Linked DNA regions of Homo sapiens: regions 1, 2 and 3 are each reported to be linked to region 4. Evidence: microRNA targets listed by miRTarBase, many of them from high-throughput screens and not tested one by one. Region 4 holds a microRNA gene; each other region holds the end of a gene's coding sequence.
The links. Region 4 holds the annotated microRNA hsa-miR-30b-3p (CUGGGAGGUGGAUGUUUACUUC, at 1,739-1,760, shown strand). A microRNA usually pairs through its seed, bases 2 to 8, with sites in the 3' UTR of a target mRNA and lowers its output. Matches are read on the target gene's strand: a 7mer-m8 pairs with bases 2 to 8, a 7mer-A1 pairs with bases 2 to 7 and ends in A, and an 8mer does both.

Region 1 (3,247 bases), not on the chromosome of region 4:
TGGGTTCTGGTGGATCTGGAAAACGACAGGATGAAGCAACACTTCACCAGAGCAAGGCTGAAGGTTTCTCTCTGGAAAGGATTTTTTTGTTTGTTTGTTTGTTTGTTTGAGATGGAGTTTCACTCTTGTTGCCCCGGCTGGAGTGCAATGGTGCGATCTTGGCTTACTGCAACCTCTGCCTCCTGGGTTCAAGTGATTCTCCTTCCTCAGCCTCCTGAGTAGCTAGGATTACAGGCATGTGCCACCACACCTGGCTAATTTTGTATTTTTAGTAGAGATGGGGTTTCTCCATGTTGGTCACACTGGTCTCAAACTCCTGACCTCAGGTGATCTGCTCGCCTTGGCCTCCCAAAGTGCTGGGATTACAGGCGTGAGCCACTGTGCCTGGCAGATTTTCTTAACATAGGTTATGAGGCATACAATGTTGGGCTGGGAAGAAAATGAGAGGTGAGGGATAACTTGGGAAGTTATAATAATTTTACAGTGAATAACCGTCTTTTTTTCTGGTAAAATATTTATTTCTTTCTTCAGCAAGATGTCTGTATCAGTTTGTCTGGGCTTCTGCTCTAAACTGGCCTCCCTCAGGACCCAGGCTAAAGGAGCAGCCTCCATGGGGCATGTTGCCAGTTATCACAGCCCAGGGAAGCAGGGCAGTGAATTGACCCAGGCTCTCAAAGCCTCCACCTGGAAGTGGCATATTTCACTTCAGCTCAGATGTCACTGGTCAAAGGATGGGCACACTCAACTGTAAGGAAACAGAGAAGTAAAGTCCTACCATGCATTTGACAGGATTATAGAATAGCTCCAATAGACCACATTTACATACATGTTTTGCCAGCCATAAACTCCTGGAAGGTAAAGACTGTGACTCGTTCCTCTTTGCCTCTCTCTTGGCAACAGCCTGCGGTAGAAGTGCAATACATGTTAGGTGACTGCCTGCCTGATTGTGGAACTTAGCAAGTGACTGGAACAAAATGGGAATCAAAGCCGGAAAACTATGTCTCCTGTTTCTCCTCCCCTTTTGGCACCTCTTTGCTTCTGCCAGGATTCTGACTCTGAAATTGATTGCCTCAATGATCCTGGACCATCATTTAGCTACTGTAATCCTCAGTTCCTGCAGTTGGAAAGGGGGAACATTATTACTCCCATGTAAAGATAGAGTAAGATGGCATCTCTGAAAGCCAGGGTTGATGAAGGCTTGTGCCTCTGGCTGTTGCCCAGTGCCCGCTCTGGGGACCTTGAGTGCCCATTGCCATATGCTGAGCTACCCTACTGGGGCCTGCTGTCCTCAAGTGAGGTCCTACATGAATAAAAATCTTTGTGAGAGTCTACCTTAAAGGTTCAGGCGTTGACTATATGTGTGTATGTAATTTATATTCAGGAATACAGGAGGTGGTCATGGGAGTCGGTGTGGGTCTCTGGGATATGACTACTTTTACATCATAATCCCAAGGAATTGTTGGTTAAATTGTGTTCAGAGATTACAAGAATACTGGGTTTTATTTTTTTGTTAAGTCAGATTTATTTAGGTATAATTGACATACAGTACAATTCACTCTTTTCAGTGTGCAGTTCTATGAGTTTGACAAATGCATGCAATCTTGTAGCCACCACCTCACAATCAAAATGGAGACCATTTCCAGCCCCCTTAAAAGTCCCCTTGGCCAGACTTGGTGGCTCAAGCCTGTAATCCCAGCACTTTGGGAGGCTGTGGGCGGATCACCTGAGGTCAGGAGTTCGAGACCAGCCTGGCCGACATGGCGAAACCCCGTCTCCACTAAAAATACAAAAAAAATTAGCCTGGCATCGTGGCACACGCCTGTAATCCCAGCTACTCAGGAGGCTGAGGCAGGAGAATCACTTGAACCTGGGAGATCGAGGTTGCAGTAAGCTGAGATCGTGCCATTGCACTCCAGCCTGGGCAACAAGAGCAAAACTCTGTCTCAAAATAAAATAAAATAAAATAAAATAAAATAAAATAAAAAACTCCCCTTGTGCCATTTGTGGACAGCCCCATTTCCCACCCATATCCCTGGCATCCATGGACCAATTTTTTTTTTTTTGCTTTTTATAGAATGTCAGTAAAGCTTTTCTGACCTTTGAACTCCGATCAGGTGATAATCTCTTTTAGCATCCTATAGCCCTTATTTCAATTCTAATTATACTGTGTATGCAATTATTTAAAAATTGTTCAATGTCTATCTCTTCTGCTAGACTTCTGCAAACATGTCTGAAGGAAGGAATTGCCTGGCCAATTCATTACTGTATCCTCAGCAGTTCCATCAAGTAGATGCTCAACAAATGTTTAGTGAATAAATGAGTGACTCAATGACTATAAGTAGAGTGCTCTAGGTCGCTACTGACTCAGCAAAAGCCATTTATTATTCAGTGGTATCAAATCTATCCTATTGTAAAGCACACAGAGACCTTATCATTCAAACATTCTTGAAGTGTATGGGTAAATATTTGGAGTTACATTGGATCTGAATACCAGCAATCAGAACCATCCTAGGCAATTTCAGATGCATGATAGATATATTCAATTAATCAAAAATAAGATGGAAACATTTTAATAACACTGTCTTTTGCCATTATTTTATACAGCATATTTAAAACTGTTCATTTCATAATTTTTACATTCCGTATATTTTGTAGCAGATCTGACATGACAGTGATGCTTAAGAGCAAGATCATGAAGTCTTCAAAATCTAGCTTATTTTCTGTGTGCTCATCAAGTTCAGAAAGGATCTCTCTGTATTTTGGCTTGGTTTCTTGTCCCTGTGAGAATGGAGAAATAAAAACCGAATTCGTTGTATAGACTTTAGGTTTACAGATCATAAACAATAATGTCTTAGTCTGTTTAGTGTTGCTGTAATAGAATACCTGAGACTGAGTGATTTATAAAGAAAAAAGAAAAATTTGGCTTACAATTCTGATGGCTGGAAAGTTCAAGATCAGGCATCTGCATGTGGTGAGGACCTCAGGCTGCTTCCACTCATGGTAGAAGGTGAAGGGGAGCTGGTGTATGAACAGATCACACAGCAAGAGAGGGGGCAAGAGGAGGAGGGAGGGTTCCAGGCTCTTTTAAACAACCAGCTCTTGTGGTAACTAACAGAGTGAGAACTCACTCACCACCCCCAAGGCAGGGCATTCATTTATTCAAGAAAGCTCTGTCCCCATGACTTCAAACACCTCCCATAAGGCCCCACCTCCAACATTGGAGATCAAATTTCAACATGGAGTTTGG
Region 2 (3,000 bases), not on the chromosome of region 4:
GGATGGAGTGCAATGGCTATTCACAGGCCTGCTATCATAGCACACTACAGCTTCAAATTCCTGGCCCTCCTGGCCTCAAGTGATCCTCCTGCTTCAACCTTCTGAGTAGCTGGGACTACAGGCATGCCACTGTGCCTGGCCTTATTTTTAATGTATATATTTTTCTGTAGATAGTTGACTATCTGTGGAAGAATACTCAGGAAAATGGCAACAGTGATTGCCTCTTGAGAATTGGGTGACTAGGGAGAGAAGTAGGTGGGAGATTTTTTTTGTATACTCATACCTTTTGAATATTGTACCATGTGCCTTTTGAATATTGTACCATGTGCCTTTTGAATATTGTACCATGTGACAAAGTCTATCAGATAAAGACCACCAAGGAACACACCTGCGGTCAAGTTAAGTTTATGAGCTTGCTGCTGTAAGGAAGACCCCACACCAGAGAAACCAAGGATATAACAGTAAGAGGGAACAGAAGGAAACTTTTTTATTTTTTGAGATGGAGTCTCACTCTGTCGCCAGGGCTGGAGTGCAGTGGTGCGATCTTGGCTCACTGCAACCTCTGCCTCCCGGGTTCAAGTGATTCTCCTGTCTCAGCCTCCCAAGTAGCTGGGATTACAGGCACCCACCACTATGCCCAGCTAATTTTTTTTTGTATTTTTAGTAGAGACAGGGTTTCACCATGTTGGCCAGGCTAGTCTCAAACTCCTGACCTTGTGATTCGCCCATCTCGGCCTTCCAAAGTGCTGGGATTACAGGCGTGAGCCACTGTGCCCGGCCCAGAAAGGAACTTTTACAAGATTTGGGCTTCTGTTGAATGATTGAGGAGAGTCTAGGGAAGCAAGGATTGGCTCTTGATTGGGTATCTCAGCAGTCTGTTCAGAGGCACGAGGAACAAAGCGAAGTCATTGGTAAGAAAGTGGTAATCACTGAAAAGAAGAAGGTTGTTAGGCATTTTGCAGGTGTGGTGTGGCCTTGGGAAGAAGTTTTCTGATGGCCTTGCCACTGGCCCTGTCTGTATCTAGTTGGTACATTACAGTCTGATTAAAATCAGCACTGATCTTTCCTTTCTCAGTCCTGAACTGACTTTTACTTTCTGACACTTGAATGTCTTATCTATTCAAAAACTAAGGCATATTTTAAAGTAAAAAGAATGAAAATAAACCTTCTCCACACACTTCTTGAGCCTAGATTACCAGTTCCCTAGCAAATAAGAAATTTATTTGGCAGACAAGAAAGTCAAGTGTGTGTGTGTGTGTGTGTGTTTCTGAGCAATGCTGCTCCTTCCGATGATCAAATATGAAGAAGTAACTATCTTCAGAAAAAAGATGAAGGCAAGTACCCCAGTACTGCAGTAGCTGATGCCAGGGAGACTGGAGTATAGGGGTGGCTCTGGGCATCATGTCCCCATCCCCTGCCAGGGCTGAGTACTTGGCTCTTGAATCTCTTTTTTCAATTGCTGTTACTCTTTCCCATGATGCTGACTCTAAGAGTGCACAAGGCTAAAACATGCATTGCTCTCAATAGGAATCTGTAGCAGAGACAGCGATGTTTAGGGCCAACAAAGATCTTGGGCAAGTCACTTCACTTTCCACCATAAAGAAAATGAAAGGACTGGAGCAAATGATGCCTGAAATCTTGGCTAAGGCCTCAGCAATCAACATTGGCAGCAATCAACCCCTGCCCTCCTCCCCAATACAACCTTGTTATGTTCACAGTAAAACAATCACAACAGGAAGAATAGTGTAGCATCAGATAAATTGTCTTCCAATCCTTTTCACTAGAGGCAACCCTTAGTTAACAGTTATGTGTTTTTCCAGCTATTTTTGTTCAGAGACAGTATCTCCTTCCCATTTTCCATTTAGGAAAAAAAAAAGTGTAGCTCGCTGCCTGCACTCATTTAGTTTTACATAAACACCCTCTTTGAGGCTGAAGCAAATCTGACTGATTTTCAATGTGAAAATAAAATATAAAAACTGTTCTTGGTGCTAGGCGCAGTGGCTCATGCCTATAATCCCAGGACTTTGTGAGGCCCAGATAGGCGGATCACCTGAGGTCGGGAGGTCAAGACTAGCCTGACCAACATGGATAAACCCAGTCTCTACTAAAAATGCAAAATTAGGTGGGTGTGGTGGCACATGCCTGTAATCCCAGCTACTAGGGAGGCTGAGGCACGAGAATCGCTTGAACCTGGGAGGTGGAGGTTACAGTGAGCCAATATCATGCCATTGCACTCCAGCCTGGGCAACAAGAGTGAAACTCCGTCTCAAAACAAAACAAAACAAAACAAAAACAACAAAACTGTTCTTGGAGTTATTTCTTTTTTTTGAGATGGAGTCTCGCTATGTCACCCAGGCTGGAGTGCAGTGGTGTGATCTCAGCTCACTGCAACCTCCGCCTCATGGGTTCAAGCAATTCTCCTGCCTCAGCCTCCCAAGTAGCTTGGATTACAGGCATGTGCCACCACATCCAGCTAATTGTTGTATTTTTAGTAGAGACAGGGTTTCACCATGTTGGCCAGGCTGGTCTTGAATTCCTGATCTCAGGTGATCCACCCAGGTCGGCCTCCCAATCTTGGAGTTATTTCTAAACAGAACTTGTCTCTAATCCTAATGGAACAGATGTGTATGATGATCGGTATTTAATAATTTTTTTTCGTGTGGTAAATTTCAAAGCACGGAACAACACAAAGCGGAACATCACATTCGGCACAAAAATAGCGCGTTTCTTTCCGGATCTTCTTGCCATCCTTGTCGTATTGGGAGCAGCAAATTTTGCAGCGACCAGTTGGATTCTGTTTCCCGGACGTTGCTGGTATGCTCTTGGGGAAATGTCTTCCAGACAGACGAAGAGGTGTGACATCATCGGAGCAAGGACGACCTCGAAGATGTTGCTGCCCTGGCTTGTGATGCTTTTCCAGCATTCTTTCAATCAATGCCAGTCTGAAGTTTATATGGCTCATCGTGTGCTCAGGATTATCCTTCTTGAACAGGATGTAGG
Region 3 (3,247 bases), not on the chromosome of region 4:
CTTTTTAAAGATGTGAATTGGACAGCCAGACTTGCTTATTTGTCTGATATCTTCAGTATTTTTAATGATCTTAATGCTTCTATGCAAGGGAAGAATGCAACTTATTTTTCAATGGCAGATAAAGTTGAAGGACAAAAACAGAAGTTAGAAGCTTGGAAAAACAGAATTTCTACAGATTGTTATGACATGTTTCATAATTTAACAACAATTATCAATGAAGTAGGTAATGATCTTGATATTGCACATCTGCGAAAAGTTATCAGTGAACATCTTACAAATTTGTTAGAATGTTTTGAATTTTATTTTCCATCAAAAGAAGATCCACGCATAGGAAATTTGTGGATCCAAAATCCATTTCTTTCATCAAAAGATAACTTAAATTTAACTGTAACTCTACAGGATAAGTTGTTGAAGCTGGCTACCGACGAAGGATTGAAAATCAGTTTTGAAAATACAGCATCACTTCCTTCATTTTGGATAAAAGCTAAAAATGACTATCCTGAGCTTGCTGAGATTGCTTTAAAATTGCTGCTTCTTTTCCCCTCAACATACCTCTGTGAGACCGGATTCTCTACTTTAAGTGTTATTAAAACAAAACATAGAAACAGTTTAAATATACATTATCCCCTGAGGGTAGCATTGTCATCAATCCAACCTAGATTAGACAAATTAACAAGCAAGAAGCAAGCTCACTTATCACATTAAAAGCTTTAAATATTGATATGTAAGGTATTGGTTCAAAGTATGCATATAAGCATTGAGTGTGAGGAATTTGCTATTTCACTTTAAACTTTCTGTCTAGTTACAGTTATGGAAGTATGAGAAGTTATGAGTGAAACAGCAATTTTCTATATAAATTGCCTATATGTATATTTTCAATTAAGAATGTGTACAGTTTTTATAATTCTATTTTTCCTCATATTTGTCGTATTTATTAAAATATAATTTTAAATCTGTTGATTCTAATATTAAAACATTTGATCTTATATTTTGTGTCTTCTTCTTGTATTTCATTAGCATGTTAAGATTGTAGGACAACTTCAGGATGGGAGATGGTTTCTTTGAAATAGACAAGGTCAGTGAAAGGAAGTGAATTCAAAGGGGTAGGCTTAGAATTCAAATGCAGGGGACAGGTCAGTAGGGTATGAAGTTTGTTAAACTGATCCAGAGTGGTTAGGTTGGAAGTTGATGTTGTTTGTTTTGTAGGTGCATGTTTAGACAAAGATGGAAGGGAACACTTATTTTGTAATGGTGTTATGGCCTTGGATTCATATTGATAAATTTATTTACTTATTTATTTTTGAGGCAGGGTCTTGCTCTGTTGCCCAGGCTGGAGTGCATTGGTGCAATCTCTGCTCACTGCAACCTGTACCTCCTGGGTTCAAGTGATTCTCTTGCCTCAGTCTTCCGAGTAACTGAGATTACAGGCACCCACCACCATGCCTGGCTAATTTTTGTATTTATAGTAGAGATGGGGTTTCACCATGTTGGCCAGGCTCATCTTGAACTCCTGACATCAGATGACCCTCCCACCTCGGCCTCTCAAAGTGCTGGGATTACAGGCGTGACCTGCTGCGCCCGGCCGATAAATTCTGATTTCATAAGGATGGGCGATTGGGCCATACTGACAAGTTTATGTTAGGTGGTTTCTAGATTTTGCTAGAACTGATTGCCTTTAAGGTGCTCTGGGACAAAGTCAGAAATTATTGGCACCTCAATTAGATTTAACAACCTCTATTTTGTTTGGAGATGATTCAGAAAAATGCCACAAATATCTGCTCTTGTGTCTGTGAACTCATTTAGAATAATCGAAAGCAAATTAGTCCGATAAAACAGGTTCTTTAGCATCAAAACATGACAGAATCCATGAAGAAAATATCTTTTCCTAGACAGGGTAGCAATTTACAGTAAGTGCTTCGTTTCAAATAAATGTGATATTCAAAGTTAAGGAAAGGAAGGCTATTTAGTGATTCAGAATGTTACTAATAATTTAACCTTTTGGTAATGGAAGTTTCAAGGATCCTCCAAACCTTTGAAAGTAGAGGAAAGGTTCATATTTAGTCCTGAAACCTTAATTGGATTATGTTTTATTGTGTGTTTGTTTTAATCTTACAGCTTTTCAAAAACAAAAAACCTTATCATGGTGGATAGATTTAGAAGACAGTGGTTTAATTTCTCCCACTGACAAATTATATGCCCTCTTTCTTATCTGACCATATTCTAGAACTAAGGGATTTTAAAATGTTTTACAGTTTGTTTTATTGATTGAATAAAGTATTGTGTTTCCCATTTTTAATTTCAAAAGGCAATGTGGTGATTTTATATTTATTTCTATAAAAACTTAAAGTAGTCTGGAAGAAATTAAGAGGGAATTAAGAGTACATATTAAAAGAGAACTAAATTCCCTTACTTTCTCTCTAAGAAATATAAAGTATTAGATGTTTGAGATTGGTACAAAGCCTTCACTTTCTCTCTAAGAAATATAAAGTATTGGATGTCTGAGATTGGTACAAAGCCTTCTCATATACTTGAACAACTATTTTTATTTTTTTCTGCAAATGATTCAGTGCCAGGAGGCTAACTTGCTTTACCTTTTTTTTAAGACATAGGAATATTTGTCTTTCCTCCCTTACCTCCCTGTTTTATTGTCTCACTGTAAATTTTTTTAGGGCAACAGCTTTATTGAGATTTTTATTGAGATCATGAAATCTTACTGCCTATTCTTAACGTGAATTTGATGACTAGTGATTCTGTAGATAACCTGATTTTCTCTTCCTATTTTCTGCTTGTTTTGCAGCAAGTTCACATGTCTATAAACGTGGTATATGAATACAATGCAAAGGTATCTTTATTTGTGTATACTTACAACTACTGTATGCAGTACTGTTTATTTCCATCTATCATGTATATATGTGCTGGTTTTAAAAAATTGTATTTATGTATAACAGGAGGTTGTGTTGGGCTTTTCCTATTACTCAAAGAACAGCAACTAGGGAGGAGTCAAAGATGGGTCAAGGGAACGCTAAGTACTTCACTTTTTAAAGAAATCTGACAATGACTAGAATCAGAAAACCCCACCACCCACTGCCTCCATGCACACACCCAGACCTAACTTGAAGGATGATTAAGAAGTCGTAGAACTAGCTCCCAAAATTGTGCTTTCTGCCAAAGGAATCACTGGTAGTGATTGAAGATGCCTTCAGGAAGGAAAGACTTGTATTTTATTTCCAGATTGGGTGTTAATTTA
Region 4 (3,247 bases):
TCTTTTTTTTAGTTTGAATATCAGTTTGGGCTTAGTTACTTTTTAAAATAAGGCTGTTTCAGATAGTCTCTGCCACACTTTGCCTAGCCTGGTTAATTGTGGGTGGACCCATGCTACATGTTTTGGCATTGCCTTTTTCTTATCTGTACCATATTACAAACTTCCTAGTAATTTGACATTCACTGCTGTCTTTGCTTTAGCTTTCCAACAGGTTTGGTGAAACAGTCCATTGCTGTTCAATATCAGCTTGCATCAGAATTACTTGGAGGGCTTATTGATTAAAACACAGATTGCTGGGCCCTGCAAAAAAAGTTTCTGATTCAGTAGGTCTGGGGTGGAACATAAGAATGTGCTTTTCCCCCCACAGTTCCCAAGTACTGCTGATGCTGCTCCTCTAGGCCCATGCTTTCAGAATCACAGAGCTCATCTTACATTCTTTTCCTGCTAGATATTATGCCCAATTAATACATGAAGTAAAACAGAAAAATCCTTAACTTAAAAACATGTATTAATCCAGAAGTTTGATTATAAAAAGGTTTGTTGAAAATGTGAGACCATTTTTTCTCCCAGAGAAAAAGTATATTAATTGTCTAGCTGGGAGGGGCCTATTTGAATGTGTTTTCAGAGAAAAGCAGAAGAAAAAAATACGGTTGTAATAGAAGTAGTTAAAACAGAAAAGCAGTATGGTTGTAGAGTGGGGTGGCGGGGAGGTATATGTGTATTTAATCTTGAGAACCAATGCTTTTGGAAAACAGCCCGAAGGGACAAGAGACTAGGTAGAGACTGGCGAGGTTCCTGAAAGTCCTGGGTTACCTGTGAAATGCCAAAGATTTTTAAAGTTTGCTGGCAGTGGTTATTATATGTAGTTTTACTTCCAAATTTGAAGATTTCCTCTTCTTTGATGCAAGTGTGTTGGTAGGACCACTGATAATAGTTAGTGGAGATATTTGTGGGAATATATTTTTAATCAGAAAGAATGCAAAAAGAGGGGGAGACATTTCTTTGAGACACCTTAATGACACTGGGAACAGTAGAAGGTGGAAAGAGATCAGAGTGTGGGAAAGATGTGCCTGAGATGAAATTATCTGAATTCTGAATGTGGGGGAGAAGATGAGGAGAGGGTTGAGGGGGAGGAGAGATGACTAAGCTCCTCACAGTGTTTCATTAACTGTCTTTTACCTAAAGGAGGAATCTTCTTAATGAAGATTGGTTGATGCATCATACTGGTCATCAAGTAAGTTCTTATAAATGCAAGTTTGATTGTTTTGAAGGGAAGGATATAGGAAGGCTGGATAATCAGCTACATTTAGATATGGAACACTACAGGATGTCGGCATTTATTGTTGTAAATTCCTTTGGTGAAAAACGTTATCACTTGTTTGTGACTAGCCTGGGCAATATAGTGAGACCTTGTCTCTAAAAAAAATTTTATTAATAAGAAAAATTAGCCGGGCATAGTAGCGTGCCTGTAGTGCCCCCCACTGCCCTGGACACGCCCCCACTTCCAAAAAAACAAACACCCAACTCACTTCTGCCTTTTCCTTGGATTCTACACTTTCTCTCAGGATATCTTTCCGATTGAGTCTTGCCTCATTTATGTGAATGCTGTGCCTGTTCTTTTTTTCAACAGAGTCTTACGTAAAGAACCGTACAAACTTAGTAAAGAGTTTAAGTCCTGCTTTAAACCAAGTTTCAGTTCATGTAAACATCCTACACTCAGCTGTAATACATGGATTGGCTGGGAGGTGGATGTTTACTTCAGCTGACTTGGAATGTCAACCAATTAACATTGATAAAAGATTTGGCAAGAATAGTATACAGAGGCTTGAATTTTTAATGTAATTAATGTAATTAAAGGTTTGTTGGAAATGTGAGACCATTTTGTTCTCCCAGAGAAAAAGTGTGTTAATTGTCTAGCTGGCAGGGATCTACTTGAATATGTTTGCAGAGAAAAGCAGAAGAAAGCATGGTTGCAGTAGGAGTAGTTAAAACAGAAAAACAGTATGCTTATAGAGGAAAAATTACTCTAAATTTATTAAAATTCCTTTAAATTTGTTACTCAATTTAAATTTTTATTGTATCTTTTCAATTTTGCTATAGCACTAACATGACATAAGGCTCTGGGTATTGGGACAAAAGAATGCCCTTGTTTGGTAGTTGGGGTCGGGTTTGTAGTATTGCAGTGTGCTTTAACAAGCATGGGCTTTGACATCAGACATTTGTTGCCATCTGGACTCCACAAGTGAATTTGCTACGGGATTTGGAGGAGGGAAAGGCACTGTTTCCATACCTCAGTGGTTTTCTCATCTGTAAAATAAGTATGTGATTGCATGGATTGACTTACATGATGAATATAAAGTTGTTCATTAGTACAGTACCTGTCATATTAAGTACTCAATAAATGCTAGTTATTATTAATGCTGTGTTGTAGGTGTTCAGTAAATAGTTGCCATAATGCTTAAAGCAGACATAACTTGTTTTTATTTTTGCAATAAAGATGATGCCAACTTTTTGGTTTAATGGAAATGCTTTGAATCTTTGATATTGTTGTAATATAGTGGCAAAGAATTTTGAATCCCAGCTTCTGGAGCTCATATCTTGATTCTGCGAGTTACTTCGCTATGTTACTTTGGGGGAAGTTATTAATCTCTCTGTGCCTCAGTTTCCTCAGTCGACTAAATTGAAATTATAATAGCACCTACCTGATAGGATTGTTGAGACTAAATGAGGTAACAATTTAAAAATAAGCTAATACCTGATAATTAGTTCTATATATGTACTGATTGGTCTAAACGTTATTTCCATTTTCATGTCTTTACTTAAAATACTGAAAATTAATTTTTTATAGCTTTGTTTTTCAGTTCCATGAAATCAGCCTGCCTTTTCTTTTTTTGGTGATACATCCACATTCTGTATAGGTGAAAAGCAAAACAAACAAGTATAAAACGAAAATTATGTAAGAAGTACACACATCCTAGCAGCTTGGCAAGTGTCTGTATGCTCTTGCCTGTGCCTAAATCCAGAATTAGAATTCATGCTTGGTGCTCCTGTGGAAGATGTCTAAATGTTATGAGAAATACATGATTAAATAAAAATGTGAAATGAAAGCATGGAGACTTGTTGAAGGTGAGTGCTGTTTTTCTAATTATATATTTTATTTGTTTAATGAATAATTTGTTAATTTTCTTTGTCATTACGAGAGAGCTGTTTTATTCTGTACTTAGGTGCATAGCATACTATGTTTTAG

Region 1: the mRNA of SNTN is a reported target of hsa-miR-30b-3p. Seed matches in the 3' UTR shown: 8mer at 1,701-1,708.
Region 2: miRTarBase lists PGBD4 as a target of hsa-miR-30b-3p. Seed matches in the 3' UTR shown: 7mer-m8 at 2,192-2,198.
Region 3: the mRNA of SCAND3 is a reported target of hsa-miR-30b-3p. Seed matches in the 3' UTR shown: 7mer-m8 at 1,526-1,532.

Annotation. Positions count from the first base shown.
Region 1 is chr3:63,663,468-63,666,714 of GRCh38, reverse strand. SNTN (sentan, cilia apical structure protein) reads right to left here. Exons shown (of 4, transcript NM_001080537.2): 4 at 1,503-2,778. The coding sequence ends at 2,620. Among named protein-coding and RNA genes, the nearest start is that of SNTN, 12 kb to the right of the region's middle.
Region 2 is chr15:34,103,931-34,106,930 of GRCh38, reverse strand. PGBD4 (piggyBac transposable element derived 4) reads right to left here. Exons shown (of 1, transcript NM_152595.5): 1 at 1-3,000. The coding sequence ends at 2,642. Among named protein-coding and RNA genes, the nearest start is that of PGBD4, 3.3 kb to the right of the region's middle.
Region 3 is chr6:28,569,369-28,572,615 of GRCh38, reverse strand. It overlaps SCAND3 (SCAN domain containing 3), which reads left to right. Exons shown (of 4, transcript NM_052923.2): 4 at 1-2,081. The coding sequence ends at 705. Among named protein-coding and RNA genes, the nearest start is that of SCAND3, 16 kb to the left of the region's middle.
Region 4 is chr8:134,799,045-134,802,291 of GRCh38, reverse strand. It overlaps MIR30B (microRNA 30b), which reads left to right and starts at 1,685; the gene lies at 1,685-1,772. It also overlaps a transcript of ZFAT not described here.